Homo sapiens: one gene and its partners. The protein of the gene in region 5 purifies or fractionates together with the protein of the main gene of each other region. This does not show direct contact. Each region holds a gene or a part of one and is shown on either strand. Other genes may lie near its edges.

Region 1 (4,473 bases), on a different chromosome or scaffold from region 5:
GATTACAGGCACCTGCCACCACACCTGGCTAATTTTTGTATTATTAGTAGAGACGGGGTTTCACCATGTTGACCAGGCTAGTCTTGAACTCCTGACCTCAGGTGATCTGCCCGCCTCGGCCTCCCAAAGTGTTGGGATTACAGACGTCAGCCACCACACCCAGCCTGGCCCCTTCTTCTTTATGAAATGGACTTTCTTCAATTTTGTGATTTTTTAAAAAACTTAATCCTCGCTTATGTTGGAAAATATGAAAAGTATAAATTAGGCCGGGCGTGGTGGCTCACGCCTGTAATCCCAGCACTTTGGGAGGCCGAGGCAGGCGGATCACGAGGTCAGGAGATCGAGACCATCCTGGCTAACACGGTGAAACCCCGTCTCTACTAAAAATACAAAAAATTAGCCGGGCGTGGTGGCGGGTGCCTGTAGTCCCAGCTACTGGGGAGGCTGAGGCAGGAGAATGGCGTCAACCTGGGAGGCGGAGCTTGCAGTGAGCAGAGATCCTGCCACTGCACTCCAGCCTGGGTGGCAGAGTGAGACTCAGTCTCAATTAAAAAAAAAAAAAAAAAAGTATAAATTACCCATAATCTCTTACATAAATTCCTTATGATTTCCTTATATTTATTTATTCTTATAATTTCTTATATAAATCTCTTATAGTGTCTTTCTTAAAGAAATCACTGTATATAATATTTCCTGCTAGTTCTTATAACACTCAGAACCCCCACAGCACTCTCAGACCTGAGTTGCCTCTCCAGCCTGGGCTTTCCATGATTCTTGGGATGGATGCAGGAATGTCGCCTGTTTATTTTCATTCATGGGCTTGGTGACCACTGCTGCCCCTCACACACTGCATGGCTTGGAGCGGGTCTTGAACCTTAGCTTGCTTGTTTGTAAAATGGGAAAAATAAGATGGTCATGAAGACCCAGACAGCTTATAGGACCTACCTGGTAAAGCACTGTAATGTATATGTCTGTAATTGTCTAGTTGGTGGGCCTTTGGGGTTGCTTAGGTAAGGAGGAAAAATACCTCCTGTATGTCTCAGATACAAATGTAAGTTTTCGTCTAGTGAGTGTGGTCTGGTCTAGCCAGGGGCAGTGCTGTAACTTTAACCTATATGATTTTCCTTCCCACCAGAAAGAGCATGAAGCAGAGCCCTTCAGCGGGTGTGCACACCTTCTGTGACCGGCAGAAACCCCTTCCGGACGGTGCAGCCCAGTATTACGTAGCAGGTAGCGCTCAGCACAGCTCTGGCCCCAAACTCTCGGCTAGATGCTGACTCTTTTGGGGGCAGTCCAGGGAGACAGCATGGCATGGTGGTCAAGAGCAAGGGTTTTAGAGTCAGACAGACCTGAGTTTTAATCCCAACTCTGCCATTGACAAGCTATGTCACCTTCAGCAAATTACAGAAAAGAAACTCATCAAGGTTAAGTAAAATGGGGTTATAATGACTAAATGAGATAAAATATATAAAGCAACTAGCCCAGTGCATATAGTAAGGGCTCAACACTTGTAGCTGCTTTTATGCTAAAGTTGATTGGTATAATTTTTGATATGACTGACTTCACACAATCTCATGCCCCTTTGAAAGGGACTGGGACCCTAGTATGACTGGGCTATTCCCTGCAGGTCACCTGCCAGTGAAGCTTCCTGACTACAACAACCGTTTGAGAGTGCTGGTTGCCACCTATGTGACCTTCAGCCCCAATGGCACAGAGCTACTAGTCAACATGGGGGGGGAACAGGTATGTACAGCATAAGGTGGTTCTGCCCCATCACCATTCCATGCCCAGCAGCCAGGGGCATGTACCTTATGTTCACTGCTGAGGCAGACAAGACACAACAGCCTTATGGTAAATGATGTTACATTGAAATGTGGGGGTGATGTGGCATCATTGGAGTTCCCAGAGAGATGTCCTAGCTCAGTCTTTTTATTTCATTTTTTCTTAATGAACTAGATAGAAATATGATAGTATGGCATTTTGGTTAAGAATATAGGCTTTGGAATGGACAGACTTCTGTTCAAATGCTGGCCTGCTGTTCAGCAGCTGTTTACTGTGACTTTGAGCAAGTCTCTTTATTTTTCTGAGCCTCAGTTTCCTCGTCTGCTATTTTCCTAGGAGGAAATCCCTGGGGCTCAGAGCATGCAGCTCAGAGCAAGCTGTGGGTTAGTGCCAGCTTTGGGAAGTGTTCTTTGATAATGGCAGGTTGCTAAACCTTCTGTTTGTGTGCTCTCAGGATATTTAGTAAGCCTTGCATACATTTATTTACTCTACCAACACTGAGCACTTACTCTGGGACTCGCATTATTATAAATATAATAGAGACAAGTGGGAAATATGATCCATCCCCAGGCTGATGGGAGACATGACAAACGAAACAGTTAATGACATTACAAGGCAAGGCCCAAATATATACAAATGAAGCGGGATGCAGAATAGGTGAGGATAAGCCAGACATTCCTGGACCTGTCCAAGGAATCATGAAAAGCTCAGGAGTAGTGCTAGGGTAAACATTTGGCTTTGTGACCTTTGAGGACTTCTTCATCTTTTTAAACATGTGACGTGTTTTTTGTTTTTTTTTTTTGAGTTGGAGTTTCGCTCTTGTTGCCCAGGCTGGAGGGCAATGGTGCGATCTCGGCTCACTGCAACCTCCGCTCTGCCTCCTGGATTTAAGCAATTCTCCTGCCTCAGCCTTCCAAGTAGCTGGGATTACAGGCACATGCCACGCCTGGCTAATTTTGTATTTTTAGTAGAGATGGGGTTTCACGATGTTGGTCAGGCTAGTCTCGAACTCCTGACCTCAGGTGATCCGCCCACCTCACCCTCCCAAATGCTGGGATTACAGGCATTAACCACTGCACCTGACCTTCTATTTTGTTTGTTTGTTTGTTTGTTTTGAGGCAGGGTCTCATTCTGTCACCCAGGCTGGAGTGCAGTGGTACAATCTCAGGTCACTGCAGCCTCGACATCCCAGGCTCAAGTGATTCCCCCACCTCAGCCTCCTGAGTAGCTGGGACCACAGGCACACGCCACCACACCTGGCTAGTTTTTGTATTTCTTGTAAAGACGGGGTTTTGCCATGTTGCCCAAGCTGGTCTCAAACTCCTGGGCTCAAGCAACCACCCTCCTGCCTCAGCCTCCTAAAGTGCTAGGATTACAGGCTACGCCACCATGCCCAGCCAAATGTGATTCTAATTAATGATAGTATTTCAAGCAGGACTTTGGGTAGATCAGATAGCCCACCCTGAATGCTAGAGCTAGGAAGATTTTCCAGCCTGAGGTTTGCTGGAAGTACCTCTTAGGATAGCTTGATTGTTCTATGCTCAACACTCACTGTGTTCCAAGACTCTAGTTCTTGAGAAACCAAGACCTGCTTACTGGTTCAACCACATCCTTACCTCACAGCTTCCATCTCTTTTTTTGCCCCCCTCAACTCTAGGTCTATTTGTTTGACTTGACTTACAAGCAGCGGCCGTACACCTTCCTCTTGCCTAGAAAATGCCACTCCTCGGGGGGTAAGTTCTCCCTTAGGGTATCTCTACTGCGGCGGTGTAGGGGAGCTTAAGTGCATGCTACACCTGCTGAGAAGCCTGCCCTTTACTCTGGACCGTGATCCTCCAAAAATAGCAGATCTCTGAAATAACCCCACCTATGCAGTAAGAAAGAGGATGACAATAGAGCAGAGATCTCTTCAAGAGCTTTGCATCACTGCCCTTTTTGCTTCCCTCTGAAAAGACAGGTTCCTTCCATGGCTTGGCTCTTGAGAACCTGAAATAGTTCCCCTCTCCTTTGTATCCTGGCCCAGTCTTCTCATTGATTTCTTCCTGGGGCCTACAGTTGATTTAGGCACCTCCTCACTCCATTCCCACCCCCAGCCCCAGCCCTAGCCCCAGCCCCAACCCTAGCCCCAGCCCCAGCCCTAGCCCCAGCCCCAGCCCCAGCTGAGTAATGCCACGGTGAAGTTGTGTCCCTCGCCAGCCAGCAGAGGGCGCACGGGCTTTTCTTTATGTCAGAACTTGCTTTCTGGGAATGGATCTTACTCTGGGAGAACAGTCCCACGATGGAACCATCAGACCCCGTGATGGAAGCTAGAGGGCTGCCAGGAAGAAATGGGTCCTCTTCCTGAGTTGTTGCTGTCACTTTCTCACTATCTCCTGCCAGAAGTCCAGAATGGCAAGATGTCCACCAACGGTGTGTCCAACGGTGTGTCCAATGGCCTGCACCTTCATAGCAATGGCTTCCGGCTGCCGGAGAGTAGGGGACATGTCAGGTGAGGCCAGCTGGCTTGTCCAGCCCTCCAAGCCCCAGTTACACTATATGGACTGGAGGGAGGGACATAACCTGTAAATCTTCCTCCTGACCCACACCCACTCATGCATCCCAGAGAGTGAGGACCAAGGCAAAGAGCCTTCTTGGAGGGTGCCTAGTGTTTCCAGTGCCCCTCTGCCTGGCAGAACACTAGTCATGGTCAGA
Region 2 (4,473 bases), on a different chromosome or scaffold from region 5:
TTTGAGACAGAATCTCACTCTGTCAACCAGGCTGGAGTGCAGTGGCACGATCACGGCTCATTGCAACCTCTGCCTCCTGGGCTCAAGTGATTCTCAAACCTCAGTCTTCCAAGTAGCTAGAATTACAGACACGCACCACCACACCCAGCTAATTTTTGTATTTTTACTAGAGACAGGGTTTTGCCATGTCGGCCAGGCTGGTCTCGAACTTCTGACCTCAAGTGATCCATCTGCTTGGGCCTCCCAAAGTGCTGGGATTACAGGCATGAGCCACTGTGCCCAGCCCATCACTGCTTCTTCTAAACCACCTGGTGTGACATCCCCTCCTAAGATGGAAGTGAGGAAAAGGGCACTTGCCTATTCAGAGGACTCCTGCTTTGCCTACATTCTGCTGTTATTAAATCACAGCTGTGGCTTTGGGAAACTAATTCATTAGGCCAATACAATGCTGGAATGCACAACCAAGAGAAGTTCTGGAGTCTGACCCTCTGTTGATACTTTAGAAGAGAAGGGACAAGCATGTGGTGTGGTGGATTCAGTTCTTTCCTTGGCTGATCACTGAGGGCTGACCAGATGATCTGGCCTGGCTTTACATCCTGTTTGCTGCCATGTTGCACATGATGGTCATGACCGCACATTCACAACCGGATTATTTACACACAGGCTGGTGAGGGGAAAGGGAGGCAGCTGACGGGCAGAACTGAAGGACTTACGCATCGCCTGCACTAATGGCCATAATTTTCTGGATGCCCCCGGTGTTTAGAAGGTCGCGTGCATTCTGGTAACTGTTTTGGATTATGTTGTTCAATGTGTAACAGGCAGAGGCTGTAGTTTCAATGAGAAGGTCAGTACTCGGGACTGTGTCAGGAATGATGGAAACCAAATCAGGGAGAGTTTCTTTGGCTACAAAATGAAAAAAAAAACAAAACACTTGATTAAAAAGATTGTTTCTTAATCCCAAGATCCCAATATATTTTGGGTGAAGAACATTCTTTTTCTTTTTTTGAGACGGAATCTTGCTCTGTTGCCCAGGCTGGAGTGCAGTGGCACCATCTTGGCTCACTGCAAGCTCTGCCTCCCGGGTTCACGCCATTCTCTTGCCTCAGCCTCCCGAGTAGTTGGGACTACAGGCACCCGCCACCACGCCTGGCTAATTTTTTTATTTTTTTATTTTTTTTTATTTTCAGTAGAGACGGAGTTTCACCGTGTTAGCCAGGATGGTCTCGATCTCCTGACCTCGTGATCCGCCAGCCTCGGCCTCCCAAAGTGCTGGGATTACAGGCGTGAGACACTGCGCCCGGCCAAGAACTTTCTTAAAAAGAAACACAGCTGGTTAACAACACATGGAAAGATGTAATTTCCCTAATAACAAATTTTTAAAAATATTTGAAAAGAGGATACTCTGTGCTCAGTATATTGAAAATCTTTTCAGAGTGTAATTTGGCAGAAATGTCAAGAACTTAAAACATTTTCATCTTCTTCAATTCGGTAATTCCATGTCTAGGAATACATCTTAAAAATATCACTTTGAAAATGAAAAAAGCTTTCTACAGAGATCTTTATGACAGTACTACATGTAACTGAAAAACTAAAAAGCCTGAATATCCTTATAATAGGACTATGATTAACTAAAACACACCTGCAAAGACTATTATTCATCACAAAACCTATCTATGAAGCATGTATAATAAAAAGAAAATAATTATGTTAATAGTGTATGTGAAAAATCAGTATATTTATATAAATAATACATAATATTATTGGCCAGGTTCGGTGGCTCACACCTGTAATCCCAGCACTTTGGGAGGCTGAGGTGGGTGGATCACTTAAGGTCAGGAGTTCAGGACCAGCCTGGCCAACATGGTGAAACCCTGTCTCTATTAAAAATACAAAAATTAGCTGGGCGTAGTGGCACATGCCTGTGCCTGTAGTCCCTGCTACTCAGGAGGCTGAGGCACAAGAATTGCTTGAGCTTGGGAGGCAGAAGTGGCAGTGGGCAGAGATCACGCCACTATTCTCCAGCCTGGGCAACAGAGAGAGACCCTGTCTCAAAAAAAAAAAAAAAAAGAATACATACTATTACCAAAAAACCCACGTAAGAAACCTGAGGAAAAATGTTAATAGGAGCTGTTTTTCTACAACAATATTAATAGTGAACTAAAATCTTTTTTTTTTTTTGAAACAGAGTCTTGCTCTGTCACCCAGGCTGGAGTGCAGTGGCGCGATCTCGGCTCTCTGCAAGCTCCGCCTCCCGGGTTCATGCCATTCTCCTGCCTCAGCCTCCCGAGTAGCTGGGATTACAGGTGCCCGCCACCACGCCGGGCTAATTTTTTTGTATTTTTAGTAGAGACGGGGTTTCACCTTGTTAGCCAGGATGATCTTGATCTCCTGATCTTGTGATCCGCCCGCCTGGGCCTCCCAAAGTGCTGGGATTAGAAGCGTGAGCTACCGCGCCTGGCCAAGCTAAAATCATTTTTAAGGCCAGGCAAGGTAGCTCATGTCTGTAATCCCAGCACTTTAGAAGGCCGAGACAGGAGGATCACTTGAGCCCAGGAGTTTGAGACCAGTCTGGAAAATATAATGAGACCCCGTCTCTATTTTAAAAAGTAAAATTAAATAGTAAATAAATAATAAACGAATAATCTTTGCTTCCCAAGGTTTTTCCAATACATAAGTAATACTACTCTTGTTTTTTTTTTTTTTTTGGAGATGGAGTTTCGCTCTTGTTGCCCAGGCTGGAGTGCAATGGCACGATCTCATCTCACTGCAACCTCCGCCTCCCAGGTTCAAGCAATTCTCCTGCCTCAGCCTCCCGAGTAGCTAGGATTACAGGTACGCACCACCATGCCCGGCTAATTTTTTGTATATTTTTTTTTTCAGTAGAGATGGGGTTTCTCCATGTTGAGGCTGGTCTCGAACTCCTGACCTCAGGTGATCTGCCCGCCTCAGCCTCCCAAACTGCTGGGATTACAGGCGTGAGCCACTGCGCCTGGCCTACTATTTTAAAAAGAGAAATAAACTATTTTAAATGTACTTTTCTACTATGTATATAACTTCTTGGTTATAAGTTTTGAGTTTGGCTTTTTTTTTTTGTACTAACAAGAAAGGTATTAAAAAAATAGACATGCCACTTTCACAATTAGGCTATAGAAAATAAAAAAGATACATAGACCAATGGAATAGAATAGAAAACCCAGAAATAAAGCAAAATACTTACAGCCAACTGATCTTTGACAAAGCAAACAAAAACATTAAGTGGGGAAAGGCCACCCTATTCAACATATTCAACAAATGATGCTGGGATAATTGGCAAGCCACATGTAAAAGAATAAAGCTGGATCCTCATCTCTCACTTTATACAAAAATCAACTCAAGATGGATCAAAGATTAAATCTGAGACCTGAAACCATAAAAATTCTAGAAGATAACACTGGAAAAACTCTTCTAGACATTGGCTTAGGCAAAGAGTTCATGACCAAGAACCCAAAAGCAAATGCAACAAAACCAAAAATAAGTAAATGGGATCCAATTAAACTAAAAAGCTTCTGCACAGCAAAATAAATAATCAGCAGAGTAAACAGACACCCCACAGAGTGGGAGAAAATATTCACAAACTGCATTCGACAAAGGACTAATATCCAGAATCTACAAGGATCTCAAAAAAGCAAGAAAAAAGCCAAATAATTCCATCAAAAAGTGGGCTAAGGACATGAATAGACAATTCTCAAAAGAAGATATACAAATGGCATAAGAAAAATTTTTTGATACGCCTCATACATATGAAAAAATGCTCAACATCACTAATTATCATGGAAATGCAAATTAAAAGCACAATGAGATACCACCTTACTCCTGCAAGAATGACCATAATTTAAAAATCAAAATTTAATAGATGTTGGCATGGATATGGTGAAAAGGGAACACTTCTACACTGCTGGTGGGAATGTAAACTAGTACAACCACTATGGAAAACAGTATAGAGATTCCTTAAAGAACTAAAAGTAGAACTACCATTTGATCCAGCAATACCACTACTGGGTATCTACCCAAAGGAAAAGAAGTCATTATATGAAAAAGACACTTGTACATGCATGTTTATAGCAGCACAATTCACAATTGCAAAATATGGAGCCAACCTAAATGCCCATCAACCAACGAGTGGATACAGGAAATGTGGTATATACACACCATGGAATACTACTCAGCCATTAAAAAGAAAGACATAATGGCCTTTGCGGCAAATTGGATGGAATTAGAGACCACTATTCTAAGTGAAATAACTCAGGAATGGAAAACCAAATATTGGATGTTCTCACTTATAAGTGAGAGCTAAGCTATGAGGATGCAAAGGAACAAGAGTTATATAATGGATTTTGGGGACTTGGGGGAAAGGTAGGAAGGGGTGAGGGATAAAAGACTACACATTGGGTACAGTGTACACTGCTCAGGTGACATGTGCACCAACATTTCAGA
Region 3 (4,473 bases), on a different chromosome or scaffold from region 5:
TTCTGGGGGAGATGTTGGGAAAGGAAGGAAACTCACTCTGAGGCCTGAGAAGTAACATTAAAGAGGAAAAAAAGAAGTACTATTCAGGCCTCATGCGGAAAAAGAGGCAGACACAGCCGAGACCTCAGAGAAGGCACTGCATGTATTCAGAGCACACATTTTGTATCAGCCACTTTCAAGAGTATTATTTCATTTAATCCTCTATACGAATCTTACAGGTAAGGAAAATAAATCCGTATTTTAGAAATTGAGGAAACTGAGGTTCAGAGAAATAAAGTAACCTGCCTATGGTTTCCCAGCCAGTAAGTGGCAGCTCTTCTGATAGCAAGTCCAAGGTTCTTTCCCCTTTCAGATCAGGCACTAGAAAGAATCTTAGGCTGAAAATATACTGAGTTGTGCCAGTAACTGGGAAGGATTGTGTTTGTTTTATGGAAACAGGTTCTGTCAGCTTCTCTATAGTCTATAGTTGTTAAGATTAAAATGTGAGACCAGAAGAGCAGCTTTGAAAGAGAAGTAGAATTCTTTCACAGTTTTGCTGAGGAAGGACAAGTCTGAAGGAACAGGCCTTCTGCTTATGTAAGACAAACCCAGGAATCTTTCTGGATCAGAGGAGTTTTCAGACAAAGGGCAGAGAGAGACTAGATCCCCAAAAGGGTTCCTAGGTAACACTAGCAGCTTTGGTTATCCAAGAGGCTGCTGGTGACTGTAGGTAGGGACTTCCTGTGCCTTTTGAAAAGTGTAGGAGAGTAGGATCAGGGTGTTGGCTCTTTTCTTTGTGAAGACATAGCCCCATTAAAAGCAGATCAAGGTGAGCACATGGCTGCTGCTTTCCTCCTTTGGTTCTATCAGTACAAGCTCCTTAGCCACCACCAGCCTCTTTCCTAGAAGCCCATTACTCACTCTTTCAGTAGCAGCCTACTAAACTATTGTGTCTTGTTTGTGCTTGTTCAGGAGAACAGATGAGGTGGACGTGTGGGAGGTGGGGACGTAATGTTCTCTTTCTGAGTTTGTGTGGAGTTTCCAGGGCTAGGCTCCTCTCTCACATCAGCCAAATTGATGTGACTTGTTTCCTTCTGGCTGCCATTCCCAACTTTCCAGAGGCTGAGGTGCATGATTTCAAATTGAAGGGGGAGTAGAATTTGACTTTGAAGGTAGGGGTAATTCCCTCCAATCTAAACATGCACACTCGAGCACACTCTCTGCTCAATTCCAAGGTGCATAGTAATTGCTGGTATTACAAACAGGTAATTCCACCCTTGCAAAGGAGGAGGGGACTTAAACAATGAAAGCCAGACGTCACAGGCCTTTGAGGTTTATAGTGAAGCAGGCACATATGCCATAATGACTTGAAGGCTCAAGTGGGACTAGTTTTTAGTGCTACCTACCCCTCCCCAGCATGTGATTCATGCAAAATGCAGCCACCTTAATGCAGATCTTTCTAGACAAATCTACACTCGTGATGGGGACGTGTTTATCATATTACATCGCAGTGTTTCTTCAACAAGAGGAATGGTTCCTGAACAGGACGTAGCTCATGTTAATGATGAGCAAAGCTCTCTGGGGCATGAACCCGCTGATCCCATCATCTTGTTCACGGCCAGTCTGTTGGATGAATGGTCACTGTAAGCAGCAGGTGCTAATGAGCTGAGCAAGCATTCTGTGGCCCACAGCTAGTTTGTGCAGTTGGAGCCCTCCCCAGATTCTCGTGGATAATCCCCAGACACCCCCTTTTCTCTCTTCACATGGAAAAGCCTCATGATCAAATTTTGGCACCATCTCTTCAAAGGGAATCCCCCTGTTGTAGCAGGTTGCATCGTGGTTGGTAATCTGTGGTAAGCTTGGGAGTATGAATGTGGGTCTCTTGTCCCCTTTTGAGAGTCAGTGTGGTAACTCCCATCCTCTTCCTCTGGATTAGTATCTGGAATGGAGTTGTGTCGTTCTTGCACATCTCCCCTTCTATTCAACAAGAGAAAGAATCAGACTTTAAGATTTCGGCTCCCCACTTGGGAATGGCTGCGAACCCAGTTTAAACCAGAACTACCTGGGCCTAGGTTGGTCCCTGAGAATCAACCTGCATTCAGTGACTAGTTTACCTATCTGAAATAAAGTTAGGGTTCCTTTTCTAGATATTAGGTATATAGAGATGAAAGAGAGATGATGCAAGCCCTCAGACAATCAGGCTGGTGGAGAGGAGTAAATTCCAATGCGAGCTCGCTACCGTCTTCTAAAGGAGATGTGCATATGTACTCTGAGGCCCTGTAGGAGGGGCCTCTCAGCACCTAGGGGTGTTGGACAGGCTTTGCTAAAGAGGGATGGTCTGGGCCCTGAGACACAGTGACCCAGAGAAGTGGTGGTGGTCAGGATGGGACCAGTTCTAGTCCTGGTTTAGGGAAAATGCTAAGAATCTGCTGTTGCCTTCCCATATAGACCCTCCTGATGTTGATGCACTGCTAAGAAACACATCTGGTACCAGGACTGACTAGGATGTAAATTTCCTAAGTAGAGGCTTCCCCTTCCTCCTCTCTTGCCTTTTGGGCATTTTATTGCTCCTTAGCACCTCCATGAGGAGGACAATTGTGGAAAGTAGTGGACGAGGAGGTGCCAGGGTAATAAGAAGGAGGAACCGCTATCTCTAGGTTCAATGGAAAGGATATAAAAGTGAGGTCCAGAAGAAAAAGTTTGAAGTTTTGGGGCTTTTGGTTCCTCAGTTTATCTTGTTTCTTATTAGCCTAGATGGTACTAGTAATAGTAGCTACCACTAAGCACTTAATGGATGCCCAGCCTTCTGCTGAATGCTTTATATTCATGATCTCATTTAATCCTCAAAACATTTTTATAATTTAGGAGATTATTATGCCCATTTTATAAATGAGGAAACAGCTCAGGGAAGTAAGTAATTGGCTGAAAGTCACACAGCTTCTAAGTGGAAGGGCTGGGATTGGAACGGGATCTGTCTGCTTCCAGAGCCCATGTTCTCATGGTATTGGGCTCCCTAACACCAGGTGTTCTGATGTTTCAGGTGAAGAGATTGTTTTCTGAAAGCTGCGTTGGAGGCTGTGACAGAGCTGAGAGCCTGTGTGGAGCGGATGGGGAGGCTTTCTCAATAACATGGCCCTTTGCCATTAGCCTTGCCATGACCACATTTTTCACCAGCGTCCCCCCCTGGATTCAAGATGCAAAGCAGGAGGAGGAAGTGGGCTGGAAACTAGTTCCCAGGCCTCGGGGCCGGGAGGCGGAGAGTCAAGTGAAGTGCCAATGTGAAATTTCGGGAACACCTTTCTCAAATGGGGAGAAGCTGAGGCCTCACAGCCTCCCGCAACCAGAGCAGAGACCATATAGCTGCCCTCAGCTGCACTGTGGCAAGGCTTTTGCTTCCAAATACAAGCTGTATAGGTAGGTGACACTCTCATATCTCTTCCTGCCCTGAGGTTCCCAGAGGGAAAAAGCAGAGAGACTCTGCCTAGTGTGGGTTTTTAATCTGTGGCAGAAGAGTGGAGGTTAATTTGTCCTACAAGTATACCCTGAATGCCAAACAGTTGAAGTCACTCACTAAAAAATGATTCAGATTGCTTGATTCAGACACTAGAATCTGATGGGTTGCCTCCCCAAAGTATTGGGATTGCTGGCGTGAGCCACTGCACCTGGCCTTCTTACACCTTCTTAGTGACGATCTGGGTGCCAATGTCAGGCAGCCTTGAGTTTTGTTTGTTTGTTTGTTTGTTTTTTTAAGAAATGGGAGTCTTGCTCTGTCATCCAGGCTAGAGTACAGTGGTGCAATCAGCTCACTGCAGCCTCCAATTCCTGGGCTCAAGTGATTCTCTTGACTCATTCTCCCAGGTAACTAGGATTACAGGCTTGAACCACCGCACCTGGTTGTTTTTAATTTTTTGTAGATATGGGGGTGTGGCTGTGTTCCCCAGGCTGGTTTCAAACTCCTGGGCTCAAGTGATCCTCCTGCCTTGGCTTCCCAAAGCAGTGAGATTACAGGCATGAGCCACCGCACTTAGCCCTGAACATTTTTTTTTAAATATTGCTTTCCTCACCTTTGTCAGGTGATGGTCAGAATTTTAGCTAGAAGTTAGGAATCAGTATTCGAACTTTAGAAGGAAAAGTAGACCTTCTGGCCCAGTCTGTAAATTTTAAAGTAGAGGTTCAGAGTAGGGACATAACTTACCCAAGGTCACACAGCTTCAGAGGTCCTGCAGTGCCTCTTCTACTGAATCAGCCTGCTACTTACTCATTTAACTATGTCTGTCTCCCTGTTGCCCACTGGGGCAGCTGCTTTTCTGAAACTTGTAAGCCCAAGAACCCCTACTTAAAGTGAAATTAAACGTAAAAGCCCTGACATAAGGCAGATAGAGAAGAGCAGCTTTGGTTGCTTTGGTGAGGATGGGGAGGCATGGTCAAAAGCAATTTTGGGCCAGGCGTGGTGGCTCGCACTTGTAATCCCAGCACTTTGGGAGGCTGAGGCGG
Region 4 (3,663 bases), on a different chromosome or scaffold from region 5:
TAGGGGATTATGTAGACTAAAAGCCTAGAAGTTCTGCCCACATCCTTATGACGCAGCCAATCTGGAGCTTCATGTTTCCTTCTAAAAGTAGTAACCGGGTAGAAGTGGGTGACCCATTGAGGACACATGATGTGAGGTATTTCTGCCGGATTCTAGGTTAGCAAAGACTCAAATGGGTGACTCATGAATGAAGGGAGAACAGGCACAGGACTTAATGAAAAGAGTTTCTTGAACTTAGTTTTCTGAATGGGGGTGGGGAGTTGGGGCACGTGTGTGTAAGGGGAGGCTGCCTCACTTTGAAGGAATGGTGTTGGCTAACAGGATCCATGAAATTCCTAGGTCAGTTGAATAATAACTGAACTACTGGTTTGACTGTGGATTATTTCCTGGGTATTAGTGGGACCCAACAGCACATTGCTATTAATAGTATGGAAATAATGGTCCCTCTGTTTCATTGAATTGCTGAAGTAATGATAATGCCATGAACCAGGAGAAGATGGTTGTGGGGGTTTCTAGGAAGCAGCTGCTGTGACAGGCCAATCCCAGGCTTGCCCCCGAGCCCTCCTGTCCTTCTGGGTTTGTGTTTGCCTTGCCTGGTGCTTCCTCCCTCATTGTGTTGTTGAATAGACCTAGGCAGCCTTGTATCCATAGAAAGCCTCCACTGCTGGGCCGGGGAGGGGGTTGTGGTAAGGGCCCTCTGGAAATCAAGCAGAGAATGCCTTTGCAGTGGTCTCCCGGGCATTGGGCAGGGCCTAGCCTTTTGCAGCCCCCAGAGGACCTTGCCTGCATAAAGCACTCAGAAGGGTTAGCCACCTGGTGATTTTGTCTCTAGTGAAACTGTGTTTGCCGATAATCATCCACATAGCCACCTCTGTCCTCGCAGTTTGGATGCCTTTTTTTGACACCTGCGCTAGGTTCTTGTATGCTGGCTTTTCTTAAAGGAACAGCAGAGTAGAAAAGAGGTTGAGAATGTTTTCTAGCAGGCAGAATGTGCATACATGTTTTCATGAGTGTCCTTTGGGTGCTGTTTCTTTTAAATCCTCTGTGCACAGGGCTCTGGCCTTTAGTAAACTGTTTTTCTGTCTTACGTCATGCTGACTGGGTGCTAGGGGCTGATTACAAAGGGGAAGAGTTGAACAGACATCAGGGGCCGATGAAACCAAAGGACTAGGAGTCAGGAGAACAAGTCAGGGATTAGGAGACAGCGGTTTGGTTTATTGTTATCCAGCTGGAGGACTCCTAGGGGCAGCAGCAGGAGGAATACCAGGGCCACGGAGGGGCCAGGAGTCTCACAGTGGAGGGCAGACTCTAACAGATGCCAGCTGAACGCTCGCTGGCCCTGGATGTCATACGAGTTGGGGACCAGAAATCTGGGCTCAGAGAACCCGTCCAGGGAGATTTGAAGCCATGGGTTATCTTCTAGAGTTGATACTGATAATATATTTTAATTTTTATTGATGTTTAATACCTTCTGAAACAGGAGGGTAAGATCAGATGGGAAGCCCCTCTGTTGAAGGATCTTGGGAACCTTGGTGGTTTTTTTTTTTTTTTTGGTTTTTTTTTTTTGATCGAGCTGTGGACATCCTTCTTAATTCGATTCTGAGGATTTGTTTAACTAAAAAGTTCCCAAACACAGAAAGGGCCTCCCCACCTGCTTTGGGGAGCTGTCTGTGCTGGGAGTGCCAGGCATCCCATGGGACCCATCACTGCCAGTGTCTGTGCCTCCCAGAGGTCAGCCGTGTCTGCCCTGGCTCTGTCTCCTCTGTGACAGGGCAGAGCATTTCTGGTCAGTTTCTCCATGGTGCCTCCCACCCCTTTGTAAAGTGGATGGACATGATGGAATTCAGTTGTCTCACCCTGATAGCCTGGGTGTTGATATTCACTTTACCCGCACTCAGACACAGGCGACCTTGAAGCAGTTCTCGGTGTGTAGAGTCCACGTGACAGTCCCCACAGCCTCCCCAGATAGCTGTGTGCCTGTGCGCTACTGCTGTGCCATTTTCCCAACTTGGCGTTTCACTAAATGCAGCTGATCTCTCTCTCTGTGCACTCGTGATCCATGTTGAACAATACATGTAGGTTCTTTTTCCACGCAATGTAAGAACATGATATACTGTACGTTGGAAAGCATTTACCTTATTTATATACCTGAATGTTCCTACTACACAAATAAACATATATTAAATTCTAGATCATGTGTGGTTTTCGATGGTGGGGGTGGCGGAAGGCCAGGGGTGTGGACGTTTGGTTGCTTATGTGGAGCCAGCATTATTTCCCAGGATGCTGCTGACCACCGCTTGCTTCTAGAGACTCCCTCTGTCCTTGGCCTTGGCAACCTGCCCCCCCGGCTTTCCTCCTGCCCTTGGTTGCTCCTCCTCGGTCTTCTTTCTGGGTGTCTCTTTTCTGGGCCATCCCTTGGGTGGTGGCATTCTGCCTGAGGCTCTCTTTCGCCCACTGAATTCTCCCCTCTAGGTGTTCCCACCCCCTCCCAGGATCCTGATCACCACACTCATTTCAACACTTCCCAAGTCCATGTCTCTAGCCCAAGTGGGCCTGCATTTCCAGCTGCCTGTGAGGCCTCTCACACAGACTTTGCATGATAAAACCCAAACCTATGACCCATGTCCTGAGTCCTGTGTTCTCTAACTACCCATGTGTTCTGTCACACAAGCCAGTAACTGGAGTGATCTCATCAGTCACCCAAGCCTGCCCGTTCTGCCTTCCAAACATCCTCGGAATCATCCTTACTGCCAGCCTTCTGGGCCAGGCCCCATCTCCTGCCAGGATTTCTAAGGCAGCCTCTAGCCCTCTCCCTACAGCCTGGCCACCTCTCTAATCCATTTCTTGCATGATAGCTGGGATGAGCTCTCTGCTTGGAACCCTTTGGGTCTTGAGGTTAAAGTTCAGACTTGGTAACGAGGCTTCTGGGGCCATCTGTGAGCTGGCCAGTGCCTGACCCACGCATTCGGGCCCTGCCTTCACAGCCACAGCTGCCGCTTGTCCTTCCTTGTTCCAGGTGTGCGCCTGTCCCGGGCCCTGGCGTGGGCCCTCTGCCCAGTTTTTTTCCTTTCCCAGCTCTTCGTCAGCCTGCCTAACTCCTCTTTTCCTAGCAGTTCTCACCGTCAACAGCACTTCCTTGGGGAGGCCTTATGTTGTCTCCTCACTGTGTGTCTCCTGCCCCAGGACAGAAGGGTCTGAACTCCTGGGAGCCAGCAGGCCAGCCTTACCAGGGCAAATGTCTGAGGCCAGTGGGACCTCTAGATTGATTACCTTTTGGACAGGGGCCTCTGCCATTTTCACCCATAGGAAAGCTACTACCATTGGAATTTCCTCAGTGAATTGCTCGCCAACATTCAAGATGCAGAAAAACCCACTGCATTCACTTACTTTCCTAAACCCCACAAAATCTGACTGCAAGCCACCAGTTTCCAAGACTGATGGGAAAACCAACATGAGTCGTTTTCCCTGGCTGCTTTGCTCCCTTTTGTTGCACCAGGAGCCGAGGGCTCACATGTTGCTGAAGTGGTGAGGGTCCCTGGGCTCAACTCCATCTGCTGAAGGCTCTGTTGTCCAGCCCTGTGAAGTCCATAGGAGGCCCTAGGCCAGTGGCGTCAGAGCACCTGTGCAGTTGCCTGCATCTGGCATCCTTCCATATCCAGAGCC
Region 5 (4,901 bases):
CATGGTGGCATAGGTCTGTATTCCCAGCTACCCGAGAGGCTGAGAAGGGAGGCTCTCTTGAGCTCAAGAGTTTAAGGCTATATGCCAGGCATGGTGGCTCACACCTGTAATCCCAGCACTTTGGGAGGTTGAGGTGGGTGGATCACTTGAGACCAGGAGTTCGAGACCAGCCTGGCCAACATAGTGAAACCCCGTCTCTACTAAAAAAAATACAAAAATTGGCTGGGCACAGTGGCTCACACCTGTAATCCCAGCACTTTGGGAGACTGAGGCGGGCGGATCACAAGGTCAGGAGTTTGAGACCAGCCTGGCCAACATGGTGAAATCCCATCTCTACTAAAAATACAAAAATTAGCCAGGTGTGGTTGGCAGGTGCCTGTAATCCCAGCTACTCAGGAGGCTGAGGAAGAAGAATTACTTGAACCCAAGAGGCAGAGGTTTCGGTGAGCCAAGGTCGCGCCATTGCACTTCAGCCTGGGTGACAGAGCAAGACGCCATCTCAAAGTAAATAAATACATACATACATACATACATACAAAAAGTAGCCGGGTGTGGTGGTGCATGCCTGTAGTCCCAGCTACTCAGGAGGCTGAGGCAGGAGAATTGCTTAAACATGGAGGACAGAGGTTGCAGTGAGCTGAGATTATGCCACTGCACTCCAGTCTGGGCAACAGAGTAAGACTCTGTCTCAAAAAAAAAAAAAAAAGGAGTTTGAGGCTGCAGTAAACTAAGATGGCACCACTGCACTTCACACCTCACTCTAGCCTGGGTGACAGAGCGAGACCTTGTCTCTAAAAAAAAAAACAAAAAACGAAAAACCAAAAAAAAAAAGGGTGGGGGTGGAATAGAATAAACAACTCTGAGAAGGGACATGATCTGGTGACAATCTCAAGTGAATCAGTGGTTGAACCAGGACCAGATCCCAGTGCCCCATCTTCTGGGGACGTCCTGGGTCTGAATCTTCAATGCATGTCCCTTCTGCAGTGCCTTCCTCTGTGGCCCTCAAAGGGAAACTGAAGCCTTTGAGGACATGAAGACTCGCATTAGGCCAACGAGGGGTCTTGGAACTCCAGATCAAAGAGAATAAGAAAGACCTGACTCTGTGTGTGTGTACGTGTGTGTGTACGTGTGTGTGTGTGTGTGTGGCAGAGGGGGGTGTGGTCATGGGGTATTGACATGAATACGCAAGGGGCAGGAAGCATCTGAAATCAGAGCTAACTTGGGAGGCACAGAACACGGGGTGCCTGGAAGGGGAACAGATGTGTTGTGGGGCACAGGGCAGGCTGGGAGGGGAACAAAGGTCCACTCCATGGGTAACCAGACCCTTCCGCCAGGGCTGGCCACTTCTGCCTTTGGAAAATGTTTCACAACGCCCCATGTTGTGTGTGTGTGTGAATCGGCCGATGTGAACCGAATGTTGATGTAAGAGGCAGGGCACTCGGCTGCGGATGGGTAACAGGGCGTGGGCTGGCACACTTACTTGCACCAGTGCCCAGAGAGGGGGTGCAGGCTGAGGAGCTGCCCAGAGCACCGCTCACACTCCCAGAGTACCTGAAGTCGGCATTTCAATGACAGGTGAGTAGTGGCCCCTAGGGACAGAGCCTGATTGGGGGGTGGAGTGGAGGAGATCACTAGGCTGGTGGAGACTTGAGGAAGCAAGAAAGCCCTTGGTCCCCTGTGGAAGCCTCTGGTCCCCCGTGGGAGTCCTAGTCTAGAACACAGTTCTGGACACCAGACTCAATCTCACTGGGTGGAGTCCTTCACACCCCTAAGCGGTCTACCTTTCCTTTGTCTGAAGTCCGTGGATCAAAGCCCCTGGAGCTTTCTGGGCTGCCGGAGAAGGTGAGGGGTCCAGCCAAGGGGCAGACATGTGGCCTCAGCTTGCCCTTCTTAGAGCCTAGGGTCTCTCTGCATTCTCTGTGGCAGGAGATCTGCCTCTGGGCATCTGTCCTCACATGAGAGGACAGTAATTCTGAAGCTGCCATGTCCCACACATCTGGAATGTTTGTTTGAGAGGTGGAGGTGATGGACCCAAGATGGGGGCCAGGGACCTTAGTTTCTCCACTTTTCCGGGAGGAGGAGGGAAAGGATCAGGCGGCTTTAACTCTGGGCCACCAGAAAGAGGCAGGACACTCACCATGCTTCATGGGCCCCCACAGGTGACAAGGGTCCCCAAAGGCTAAGCGGGTCCAGCTATGGTTCCATCTCCAGCCCGACCAGCCCGACCAGCCCAGGGCCACAGCAAGCACCTCCCAGAGAGACCTACCTGAGTGAGAAGATCCCCATCCCAGACACAAAACCGGTGGGATGCTGGAAACTTCCTGGGGGCTTGCAAGATTGACAGGATCCTGAAGGATCCCATGGGCTGGAGAATGGGGTCTCCTTATGATCATGGGTGGCAAGTCCCTTCCAGGTCTGAGCAGCAGTGGTGGACAGTGGCAACTGCCCCTTCCTGCTTCCGTCCCCAGTGCTTAGCTGGGGTGCTTCAGTATTTGTCTAAAAGCGATTAAATGACTTTCTCAATGAATCTCAGCTTTCCTATGAAGGAAAAGAGGCCCAGGGGGAATTGGGATTGGAGCCTTGAGGACATGTTATAGCATTTAGGAAAGGGCATAGGGAGAAGTGAAGGAGGCTGCAGGCTGGCATCTAGCATCTAGGATGCTGTCACCTGCATTTCCAGTATCTTCTCTTTTTTTGGAGATGGAGTCTCGCTCTGTAGCCCAGGCTGGAGTGCAGTGGCGCGATCTCAGCTCACTGCAACCTCCGCTTCCCAAGTTTAAGCGATTCTCCTGCCCCGGCCTCCCGAGTAGCTGGGATTACAGGCATGCACCACCATGCCAGGCTAATTTTTGTATTTTTACTAGAGACAGGGTTTCACCATGTTGGCCAGGCTGGTCTCAAACTCCTTAGCTCAAGTGATCCACCCACCTCGGCCTTCCAAAGTGCTGGGATTACAGACACGAGCCAACGCTCCCAGCCTCCAATATCTTCAGCAGATTTCTAAGTCAATATGCCATGCTCTGGAACAGGGTGGGGGGACCATAGCCTCAGCGGACCACAGAGAGGAGGCCCCGTGGTCTGAAAAGGAGCTGGCAAGGGAGGAGCTGGGCTAGGGAAGCTTGGCCCCCTCACCCCCTTAGACAGCCCCCTGTGAGGTCTCTGAGGACCTGACAAGTCAGGGCTTGAGGGGCAGGCAGTTCAGGTGCAAGCCGGCTGCTGAGCTTAACAGATCCAGAAAAAGATCCTCTGTGACTCATCAGAGCATGCTGCTTCCTCCACCCATGCCCTCCCCATCCCTTGGGTGGCAGACCCAGGAATGGGCCATGGAGGGCAGGGCTGGGCTGATGAGCCTGTTGGGGCTCCTCTAGGGGATGGCCAAGGCCAGCTGCCACCATCCCTATACCCAGGACCCCCTCACTCTACTCCTCCCACCCCCCAACAGGGCACCTTCAGCCTGCGGAAGCTATGGGCCTTCACGGGGCCTGGCTTCCTCATGAGCATTGCTTTCCTGGACCCAGGAAACATCGAGTCAGATCTTCAGGCTGGCGCCGTGGCGGGATTCAAAGTAACTAAGTCGGGACCTGAGTGGGGACACTTTCGAGAGGGAGGTGACCAGGCTAAGTGTTGAAGGCCCCTGCTGGCCATGTTTCTCCAATGTGGCCTGGGAGCTGGTGTTAAGTTCAAATGGGCCCGAAAAGGGTCCCCAGGGCAGCCCTGCCAGAAGGTGGGGCATTTGTGTGGGGGGTAGGGGACTGGACTCCTCTCTTTAAAATATATATATGTATATTTATTTATTTATTTATTTAATTTTATTTTTTGAGACTCAGTCTCACTCGGTCACCCAGGCTGGAGTGCAGTGGCACAATCTCGGCTCACTGCAACCTCTGCCTCCCGGGTTCAAGTGATTCTCCTGCCTCAGCCTCCTGAGTAGTGCATGCCACCACGCCTGGCTAATTTTTGTATTTTTAGTAGAGATGGGGTTTCACTGTGTGGGCCAGGCTGGTCTTGAACTCCTGACCTCAAGTGATCCACCGCCTCGGCCTCCCAAAGTGCTGGGATAACAGGTGTGAGCCACCTTGCCTGGCGTAATTTATTTATTTATTTAGAGATGGGGGTCTCACTATGTTGCTCAGGCTGCTCTTGAACTCCTGGACTCAAGCAATCCTCCCACCTTAGCCTTTTAAAGTGCTGGGATTACAGGGTGAGCTACCAGCGCCCAGCCAGGATGGGACTCCATCTCTCCCACCCCCTCCCCGAGGAGTATGCTTGGTTAGAGGGTACCACGAGCTCAGGGGCTTTCTGAGGCTGGCCTCTCTGGCTGAAGGCCTCTCCCTGCCTCCTCACAGCTTCTCTGGGTGCTGCTCTGGGCCACCGTGTTGGGCTTGCTCTGCCAGCGACTGGCTGCACGTCTGGGCGTGGTGACAGGCAAGGACTTGGGCGAGGTCTGCCATCTCTACTACCCTAAGGTGAGCTTGGGGGGCCTGGACAGGGAGAACCACTGGCCCCAAACCCCAAACAGCCATTTTCAGCTTCCACGATCAAATAAATACATCATCTCACATGGGGCATCCCAAGTCTGTTTGTTTTTGTTGTTGTTTGTTTGTTTTTCAGTCGGAGTCTCGCTCCGTCGCCCAGTCAGGAGTGCAATGGTGCGATGTCAGCTCACTGCAACCTCTACCTCCCAGGTACAAGTGATTCTCCTGACTCAGCCTCTCAAGTAGCTGGGATTACAGGCGCCCACCACCATCATCGGCTAATTTTTGTATTTTTAGTAGAGCTGGGGTTTCACCATGTTGGCCAGGCTGGTCTCAAACTCCTGACCTCAGATGATCCACCCACCTCAGTCTCCCAAAGTGCTGGGATTACAGGCATGAGCCACTGCATCCGGCCCCAATTCCATT
Region 6 (4,473 bases), on a different chromosome or scaffold from region 5:
TAATGTGATATGACAAAAAGGGGCATGACTTTTAAAAAATTCGCTTCTGGTTTTTTATTTCTTATGAGAATATTTCGACTTACAATTTTTAAAATCTTTTACTTTTTGGGAAACTAAATGTTACATAAATCAAGAGATGGGTATATTTAAAAATGAGCATTAATGGGACAGTATCCTTAACTCAGTCATGTTTCAGTTTTATAGGACTTTGAGTAAGACAGTTAGTTTCTCTATACGTGGTTTTTTCTGCCTATATGTTAAGAGGAACAAGCATGTCTTCCCTTATGAAGCTAAGCGTTGCAGTGTGCTAAATCCTTAACTGGAACTGGAGGTGTGAATTCTAGTTGTGGCCCTACCACTTGCTGACTTGGGAGACCTTGGGAAAATCTTCCCTTCCTGGTGCTTCAATTTCCTGTTTGTAAAATGAAGAAGTTGGACAAGATGATATCCAAACATTCTTCTAACTTTCACCTTCTGTGATTGTCTGTGTGGGTTTGTATTTTATAAGCACTCTGAAGAGCTCAGTCTGAAATGCCCATTTGCCAGTGCAAAAGAATATAAAATATAAGATGTTCTGTTCATCAGGGACTTCAGCAAGGGCTAGTAATTCATGTTTCACTGCAAATCAATGACTAATCTCAAATATATGTTTTATTTATTAATCATTAGAATAATCTGTAACTTCAGTGAAGGCAAGGACTGTGTCCTCTCATTCATTGTGTATCTCTGGCACCTGGCACATAGAAACACCTTTATGAATTTTGTCAAATGAATGAATGTGATCTGTAAGGACCATGACCTGCGTCAGAATTTCACTGTTATAAACTAGGTGCAATTACTTACACCTCTAGTCCCAGTTACTTGGGAAGCTGAGTTGGGAGGATTGCTTGAGCCCAGGAGTTCAAGCCTGCAGTGTGCTATGATCACCCCTGTGAATAGCCACTGCATTCTAGCTAGCCTGGGCAATCTAGTGAGATCCCATCTCTTAAAAAAAAATTCACTGTTAGGCAGGTTCACTGTGAGTAGAAAAAATATTGTTTAAAAAAATCTAGTTTAGGCCAAGGGTGGTGGCTCACTCCTGTGATCCTAGCACTTTGGGAGGCCAAGGCTGGTGGATCACTTGAGGCCAGGAAGACCAGCCTGGGCAACATGGCAAAAACCCATCTCTACAGAAAACACAAAAACAGCTGCATGCACCTATAGTCCTCAGGAGGCTGAGGTGGGAGGATTGCTTGAGCCCAGGAGGTTGAAGCTGTGGTGAGCCGAAATTTCAGCACTACACTCCAGCCTTGTTGACAGAGTGAGACCCTGTCTTTAAAAAAAAAAATGCAGTTTATGTATGGAAAGCAATTTAATATAGTTGAATGAGGTTATCTATACTCTAAGAGATGAGAAACTTTGTTTTCATCTCAACTTAGCTATATCTCTTTTTTTTTGTTTTTTTGAGATGGAGTCTCACTCTTTTGCCCAGGCCGGACTGCAGTGGCGCTGTCTCGGCTCACTGCAAGCTCCGCCTCCCGGATTCACGCCATTCTCCTGCCTCAGCCTCCCGAGTAGCTGGGACTACAGGCACCCGCCACCGTGCCCAACTAATTTTTTTTTTTTGTATTTTTAGTAGAGACGGGATTTCACCGTATTAGCCAGGATGGTCTCGATCTCCTGACCTTGTGATCCGCCCGCCTCGGCCTCCCAAAGTGCTGGGATTACAGGCGTGAGCCACTGCGCCCAGCCAGCTACATCTCTTTATGTGACCTTGGGCAAGATCTTTAATATCCCTGGACCTTTTTTCATGATAGGTTAAGTAATGGGGCCGGAGTAGGTGTCCATTATAGATCCTTTCAGTTCTTAGATTCTATGATATGATATTTTAAGAACCTACTCTTTGGGGTGATAGGAACAATCCTTTATAAGTGAAGATGATCCTACTCATCTATGCTAATAGAAGTACCTGGCTGGGGTTAAGCACAAATTTAGATTCTAGTGTGATTTAGCTTAGAGTGCTAAAAATTGTTGCCCTTCTTTTCACCCACATATTTTAAGCTTGGCATGCCCTCCCTACATCTGGATTTTTACATATTTCGTGAATTTTCTTCACCTTATATTCCTTGCTTTGTATATCTCCTTCACTAAGAGTTTCAAATTTGCTTCTGTAAGCTATTTTGCAACTGTACACTAATCTCTCCTATCTTAGAACTTAGTGCCTCTGTTATTTTTATATTCGGGGTCTTGAGGAACCATGTGAAACTCGAACACTGGAATTAGAGCACAATTACCCTGTGAAGTTGAATCTTGTGTACAGCCAACATTTCTTAAATCCCTTCTTGATTTTATACATTTTGCTGAATTACATTTTAGGTAAGTTTGGCCGCACTATTTAAATGTCTTTGTCTTTGATATAAGAGGCAGTAAGGAATTGTGAATATAGCAACATTATCCTTGAATGAATTTCACAGTATTTCATTTTATCCTTCTAAGTAGAATAAAAGTAATAGTCTTAAAGAAAAGACAGGAAAAATGTTAACTTTGGTTTTTTTTTTTTTTTTTTCTGAGATGGAGTCTTGCTCTGTCCCCCAGGCTGGAGTGCAGTGGCACGATGTCGGCTCACTGCAACCTCCACCTCCCAGGTTCAAGCGATTCTCCTGCCTCAGCCTCCCACGTAGCTGGGATTACAGGCGCCCGCCATCATGCCCGATAATTTTTGTATTTTTAGTAGAGACAGGGTTTCACCTTGTTGGCCATGCTGGTCTCAAACTCCTGACCCCAAGTGAGCCACCTGTTTCAGCCTCCCAAAGTGCTGGGATTACAGGCATGAGCCACCGTACCTGGCCAAGGTATAGAAAGCCTTTTAGTCAAATCATTCTTTGGTTTGGTGAGAGATATAAAGGTATACATACTGTCATTAGTGTACTGCCTAAAAATAATATTGATTCTTTTCCTCTCCAGAGGCTGGAAGTCATCCACAACAAACACAAAAATTGGAAGAAATTAAAGAGAATGCACAGGACACCATGAGACAGATTAATAAAAAGGGTTTTTGGAGCTATGGTGAGAACAAACCTGGTTTTACTGCAGTGTTGATTCACTTTCAGAAATCCTCAGTGAAAATGCCTAGAAAACTAGCAGATTTAAACAGTTTTAACATTGTGTTTATATATACTTATTTAATGATTGGTAGTGAGACATAGTAAAATAGTACACTAGAGTTTTAGGGATTTTTCCCTTACGGGTGCTGGCTGATATTTTGCTGTGCTTAACAAAATGGAATTTCTCACAATAGGAAAGGCTTTTCCTAAACAAGAAACAAAAACTGCCTTTCTAATTAGAGAATATTAATTTTTCAAGTGCACTTTAAAGTTATGACTCCTAAAAAAATGGTCGGCTATAGGTAGTAGGTGCATTGAGAAGATGAAAAAAAATCTTGATCACTCATGTCTAAATTACATCATTAGTTATAATAACAAATACATAGACTCAGCTTTTACCTTTTATTTTTAAAAATTTTTTACCGAGTACTTAACTCTTCCACGTAGCTTTTATCTTTTAACAGATATATCTTCAAATAATTAAATCTGAGAAGAGATTAGAGAAAAGGTACTTCTGGTGGATTGAAAGTTTAAACAATTTATGCAAAAGAAACTTATTGCTCCTAGTAAAACCTGCTGGTATCTCTGCCTCATTTCAGTTTACCACAGGCTTTGTTTCTGGCTCGTGTTCTCTGTAATTTTCTATTCCTTTTTCATTCTTTTGACAGGCCCTGTGATTCTTGTCGTCCTGGTTGTGGCTGTTGTGGCAAGTTCTGTGAATAGCTACTATTCCTCTCCAGCCCAGCAAGTGCCCAAAAATCCAGCTTTGGAGGCCTTTTTGGCCCAGTTTAGCCAATTGGAAGATAAATTTCCAGGCCAGAGTTCCTTCCTGTGGCAGAGAGGACGGAAGTTTCTCCAGAAGCACCTCAATGCTTCCAACCCCACTGAGCCAGCCACCATCATATTTACAGCAGCTCGGGAGGGAAGAGAGACCCTGAAGTGCCTGAGCCACCATGTTGCAGATGCCTACACCTCTTCCCAGAAAGTCTCTCCCATTCAGATTGATGGGGCTGGAAGGACCTGGCAGGACAGTGACACGGTCAAGCTGTTGGTTGACCTGGAGCTGAGCTATGGGTTTGAGAATGGCCAGAAGGCTGCTGTGGTACACCACTTCGAATCCTTCCCTGCCGGCTCCACTTTGATCTTCTATAAGTATTGTGATCATGAGAATGCTGCCTTTAAAGATGTGGCCCTGGTCCTGACTGTTCTGCTAGAGGAGGAAACATTAGAAGCAAGTGTAGGCCCAAGGGAAACGGAAGAAAAAGTGAGAGACTTACTCTGGGCCAAGTTTACCAACTCTGACACTCCCACCTCCTTCAACCACATGGACTCAGACAAATTGAGTGGGCTGTGGAGCCGAATTTCACACCTGGTACTGCCAGTCCAGCCA
Region 7 (4,473 bases), on a different chromosome or scaffold from region 5:
TCCCAGCCATCCCTCCTCTTCCCGCTGCCTACCACCAGCTCTTCAGGCCAATCTCATACTTAAATCTACAAAGAATGCTACAGAATTCACTTCTCATATCCCAAATTATGTATATCTAGCACACAACACACATTATATCCATAAGGGCGTGTACACTTTTAGAGATTTTCCTCAAGAACTCCAGGTATTTTTTTTTAATTTTCTCCTCATAAAATATTCTCCTAAGCATGCTTTCCCTACTAGACTTACCTGCTGTCTTACTAGACACCTTAAAAGTGGTCTTCAAAAGGCAGGCATTCTACATGGCTTTTTGACTAAACCACAGCAAACAGCCTATAGTATATGAAGAAGAACAAAGATGAGAAGTTGAACCTGGAAAAAAAAAAAAAAAAAAAGAAAAGTAATCAAAACTATATCTGTGATCGTGTGTGCCCCCTGTAATGGAATTCTGTGTATTTCTCTCACCATCCTGCCCTAACAGTGAGAGGAGTCCAGTCCACTAAGCCTGCTTACTTTTTTTTTTTTTGAGACAGAGTCTTGCTCTGTCGCCCAGGCTGGAGTGCAGTGGCGCGATCTCGGCTCACTGCAAGCTCCGCCTCCAGGGTTCATGCCATTCTCCTGCCTCAGCCTCCTGAGTAGCTGGGACTACAGGCGCCCGCCACCACGCCCGGCTAGTTTTTTGTATTTTTAGTAGAGACGGGGTTTCACCGTGTTAGCCAGGATGGTCTCGATCTCCTGACCTCGTGATCCGCCCGCCTCGGCCTCCCAAAGTGCTGGGATTACAGGTGTGAGCCACCGCGCCCAGCCCGAACACTTACTTTTATGAAATGACACCAAAGACTACAGTAGATACCACTCCTGACACCATCCTTGTCTACTTTCTCTTTAATGATCCACTATGGAATTATGCCCGTGTGTGTAATCAAATCCTTCTCAAACCCACCACCTAACTTCACTTCTCTGATAAGCACTCAGAAGACTGCTGGTGTGACTACTGACTATAACAATGGCTGACTTTTGTCAATTATTGATATTACACAGCAGAGTGCCAAATTAACAGGCAGTGGAGGAAGGGACACCACAACAAAGAGGACCAAGAGGCACAAAAAGAAAGGACTCTGGGAGGAGCAGGATGGCAGTGTCCTGACCCCAAGGAAGAACACATGGACCTGCTTCAGTGATTGCTCTGCCCTCTTCTCTTCCTGCATGCATTTCAAAGATAAAGCATCATGGTGTGGGTGAGTCTGCTGACAGGAACAGAATGTGATAAACTGGCCATGCACAAGCTACACAACAGCTCATATTATGCTTCTGATTAGCTCCAGCACATTCATCTACCCCTTCTCTATCCCCTACCCCTATCACTGCTTTAATTCTGACATCTGAACTCCCTGCCACTAGTCTCCTTTTCTTCCAACCCATTCATCGTACAGCTACCAAACCTGTCTTCCAAACAGAAGCCTAATGTGATCTGCCTGTTCACATGTCCTCCAAGTCAACTAAGACACCTACAGTATACAATTTGAATATGGCATATAAAGCTCTTCACAGTCTGGCCCATGACCAGACTGCATTCTCAAAATACTGGCCCACATGTAACTCCCTGACTATTCCAGCGTCTGTGCATTTGTATAAACTATTTCCTCTCCTTTACACTCCCTGTCTTGCCACCCGGCCATCAGGCAAACTCCTTCATCCTTCAGGCAGGACAGCTTTTTAAGTCAGCTGTCTTTCTGTAAACACAGGGACCTGGTTCCAGGACTTCCCCCATATGCCAAAATCCACACATACTCAGGTCCTACAGTCAGCCTTGTGGAATTCCCATATATGAAACATCTGCCCTCCATATAAATGTTTCACATTCTGTAAACGCTCTTTTTTATTGGCATTTGGTTGAAGTTCTAACCTCTGTTATTCATGAGTCAACTGTACTGGTCAATTCCCCACTTCTTCCCAATCTTCCTAGAAGCCCCAGCTGTACATGTCACCCTCTGGCACTACAGCCTGATACCAAAAACAGGATGCCAGCTCCTGGAGAGGAGGGACTATTATCCCTTTATTCACCTCTGGAACCGTTGCACATCCCTGACACACAGTATGTGCTCTGTTCAATCCTAACATTCTCTCAATCTTAGACTCACAGGATTTTAAAACTAGAGGAAACCTAAGTTACCATCTAGTCTCAAAGTCATAGGATTTGAGGGTAGGAAAAGACCTCAGGGATCATCTACTTTAAAACTTCAATTTATAGTTAAGGAAACTCAAGCTTGACATTAAACAGCTTGCCCAAATCAGACAAATGATCAGTATCTGATGAGAGAATAAAGTTCTGCTATCTGTCCAGGTTCTTTGTAGATATACACAAACTAATACAGTGGAATTTAGTAAGATCTTTTAAAGCCTGTACAATAGTCCAAAATAAACAAGATGAAACAAACACTTAGAATCCACATATCAAGTGCATAAATACAGGACTATAGAGAACTATATCCCATATTCTGCACTGGGCAGAGTACACTATTCCAGTGGATCACTGTCCCCAGCTCTGGGCAGGAAGGACACTTTAAGAGAGTCTCTAACAAACTAGGGAACATTAAAAAAAAAAAAAAAAAAAAAAAAAAAAAGGCAACCAGGATGGCAGATGGCCCTTTAAAAAAAAAAAAGTCATTTACAAATAAAGACATTTAACTTCAAAAGGGGAAGAATTATAGATAATATATGAGCTATCCTAGAAGTGACAATCAGAAGCTAGCAGGAAAAGAATTGTGGCTTAACACAGTTTACAATCTACTCTATCATGAACTAGAACGAGTTCCTTTGTCAGGTAGGAGTACTCCATAATTAGAATCTGATGATCAGGCCGGGTGTGGTGGCTCAGGCCTGTAATCCCAGCACTCTGGAAGGCTGAGGCAGGTGGATCCCTTGAGCTCAGGGGTTCAAGAACACCCTGGGCAACACGGCGAAACCCCGTCTCTACAAAACATACAAAAATTAGCCGGGTGCAGCAGAATGCACCTATAGTCCCAGCTACTCGGGAGCCTGAGGCAAGAGAAATCGCCTGAGCCTGAGAGGCAGGAGTTGCAGTGAACCAAGACTGCACCATTACACTCCAGCCTAGATGACAGAGTGAGACCCTGTCTCAAAAAAGAAAACCAAAAAAAAAAAAAAATGATGATCAGCATAGGACTAGAAGGATCTTCAGAGGTCTTGAGTTCAACCTCTTCATTTTATAACTGAAAAGACTGATGCTGAGGGAAAGAAGTGACCTGTCAAAGATCACAACACTGAGGTCAGAGGGAACAGTTTTTTTATTCTGGTTTTCTCAATTCTGGTCTCTGCTGTAACAAAATGCTGTCTTTCCCACAGTAGCAGAACGATCCACGAAGATGTTACAGAATTTAGTCCCAGAATTCAACTTTTAGGCAAAGCCTAGAGAGCTGGGCGTCCTTCCAGCTTTTAGGTTCTAGCAAAATTTCTTCCTAAATTTAAGAACTCCTAACCCTAACTAAAAATTAACTCAGAATTGTCCAGATTAACAAAAATTTCTTTTTGTCTTTGAGACAGATTACATCTCGTCTCTAAAAAACCTAAATTCTAATCATTGGTGCTCTGCCAGTCTATCACCCAGTATCCTTCAATGCAATGTTATGCCAGATGGTGTATCATACCTATTTCCCATCTCCCATTCAATTTCTTCTTTGAAGTCGAACACCACTGATCATCTTTTAAAACACATCTGATGCATAGTTTTTTAAATTAAAATTCAATAAGTAGAACATGTTCAAAGCTAAATGGGTTCTATTAGTCTATACACACTAGCATTGTTCTTTATCTTAGCGGACTTTTTTTCTTTTTTAGAGACAGGGTCTCGCTCTGTTGCCCAAGGTTTTGGTGCAGTGACGCCATCACAACTCACTGCAGCCTCATACTCCTGGGCTCCAGAGATCCCCCCGCCTCAGCCTCCTAAGTAGCTGGGACCATAGGTACCTGCCACCACATCTGGCTAATTTTTTTTTTCTGTAGCGATGAGGTCTCACTATGTTGTCCAGGCTGGTCCTGAACTCCTGGCCTCCAGAGATCTTGTTGCCTTGGCCTCTCAAAGTGCTGGGATTACAGGTGTGAGCTACCATGCCTGGCCTTTAAGAAATTAATAAACTGGGCGGGCGCAGTGGCTCACACCTGTAATCCCAACACTTTGGGAGGCCAAGGCAGGCGGATCATTTGAGGACAGGAGTTCGTGACCAGCCTGGCCAACAGCCAACATGGTGAAACCCTGTCTCTACTAAAAATACAAAAATTAGCTGGGCGTGGTGGTGCATACCTATAATCCCAGCTACCTGGGAGGCTGAGGCAGGAGAATCGCTTGAACCCGGGAGACGGAGGTTGCAGTGACCCAAGACTGAGCCACTGCACTCCAGCTGGGCAACAGAGTAAGACTCCATACTCACCCCCAACCCAAAAAAGAAAGAAATT

The links.
Region 1: the proteins of SLC11A1 (region 5) and WDTC1 purify together in Homo sapiens (affinity purification with mass spectrometry; one large-scale study listed by BioGRID and IntAct). This does not show direct contact.
Region 2: the proteins of SLC11A1 (region 5) and PKP2 purify together in Homo sapiens (affinity purification with mass spectrometry; one large-scale study listed by BioGRID and IntAct). This does not show direct contact.
Region 3: the proteins of SLC11A1 (region 5) and PLAGL2 purify together in Homo sapiens (affinity purification with mass spectrometry; one large-scale study listed by BioGRID and IntAct). This does not show direct contact.
Region 4: the proteins of SLC11A1 (region 5) and CDS2 purify together in Homo sapiens (affinity purification with mass spectrometry; one large-scale study listed by BioGRID and IntAct). This does not show direct contact.
Region 6: the proteins of SLC11A1 (region 5) and TOR1AIP2 purify together in Homo sapiens (affinity purification with mass spectrometry; one large-scale study listed by BioGRID and IntAct). This does not show direct contact.
Region 7: the proteins of SLC11A1 (region 5) and CHAMP1 purify together in Homo sapiens (affinity purification with mass spectrometry; one large-scale study listed by BioGRID and IntAct). This does not show direct contact.

What each region holds. Positions count from the first base shown.
Region 1 is NC_000001.11:27,292,887-27,297,359, forward strand, and holds part of WDTC1 (WD and tetratricopeptide repeats protein 1), read left to right. Parts: intron 1-1,135; coding exon 1,136-1,230; intron 1,231-1,627; coding exon 1,628-1,743; intron 1,744-3,439; coding exon 3,440-3,515; intron 3,516-4,161; coding exon 4,162-4,270; intron 4,271-4,473. UniProt on the Homo sapiens protein: May function as a substrate receptor for CUL4-DDB1 E3 ubiquitin-protein ligase complex.
Region 2 is NC_000012.12:32,795,396-32,799,868, forward strand, and holds part of PKP2 (plakophilin-2), read right to left. Parts: intron 904-4,473; coding exon 714-903; intron 1-713. UniProt on the Homo sapiens protein: A component of desmosome cell-cell junctions which are required for positive regulation of cellular adhesion.
Region 3 is NC_000020.11:32,200,839-32,205,311, reverse strand, and holds part of PLAGL2 (zinc finger protein PLAGL2), read left to right. Parts: intron 1-108; exon of another isoform or gene 109-218; intron 219-229; exon of another isoform or gene 230-1,832; intron 1,833-3,019; 5' UTR 3,020-3,133; coding exon 3,134-3,393; intron 3,394-4,473. UniProt on the Homo sapiens protein: Shows weak transcriptional activatory activity.
Region 4 is NC_000020.11:5,195,698-5,199,360, forward strand, and holds the end of CDS2 (phosphatidate cytidylyltransferase 2), read left to right. Parts: 3' UTR 1-2,190; downstream 2,191-3,663. UniProt on the Homo sapiens protein: Catalyzes the conversion of phosphatidic acid (PA) to CDP-diacylglycerol (CDP-DAG), an essential intermediate in the synthesis of phosphatidylglycerol, cardiolipin and phosphatidylinositol.
Region 5 is NC_000002.12:218,380,801-218,385,701, forward strand, and holds the start of SLC11A1 (natural resistance-associated macrophage protein 1), read left to right. Parts: upstream 1-1,472; 5' UTR 1,473-1,568; coding exon 1,569-1,575; intron 1,576-2,159; coding exon 2,160-2,302; intron 2,303-3,442; coding exon 3,443-3,565; intron 3,566-4,346; coding exon 4,347-4,466; intron 4,467-4,646; coding exon of another isoform or gene 4,647-4,685; intron 4,686-4,901. UniProt on the Homo sapiens protein: Macrophage-specific antiporter that fluxes metal ions in either direction against a proton gradient.
Region 6 is NC_000001.11:179,846,107-179,850,579, reverse strand, and holds part of TOR1AIP2 (torsin-1A-interacting protein 2), read left to right. Parts: intron 1-1,705; exon of another isoform or gene 1,706-2,355; intron 2,356-2,943; coding exon 2,944-3,045; intron 3,046-3,751; coding exon 3,752-4,473. UniProt on the Homo sapiens protein: Required for endoplasmic reticulum integrity. Regulates the distribution of TOR1A between the endoplasmic reticulum and the nuclear envelope as well as induces TOR1A, TOR1B and TOR3A ATPase activity.
Region 7 is NC_000013.11:114,317,009-114,321,481, reverse strand, and holds part of CHAMP1 (chromosome alignment-maintaining phosphoprotein 1), read right to left. Parts: intron 373-4,473; 5' UTR 250-372; intron 1-249. UniProt on the Homo sapiens protein: Required for proper alignment of chromosomes at metaphase and their accurate segregation during mitosis. Involved in the maintenance of spindle microtubules attachment to the kinetochore during sister chromatid biorientation.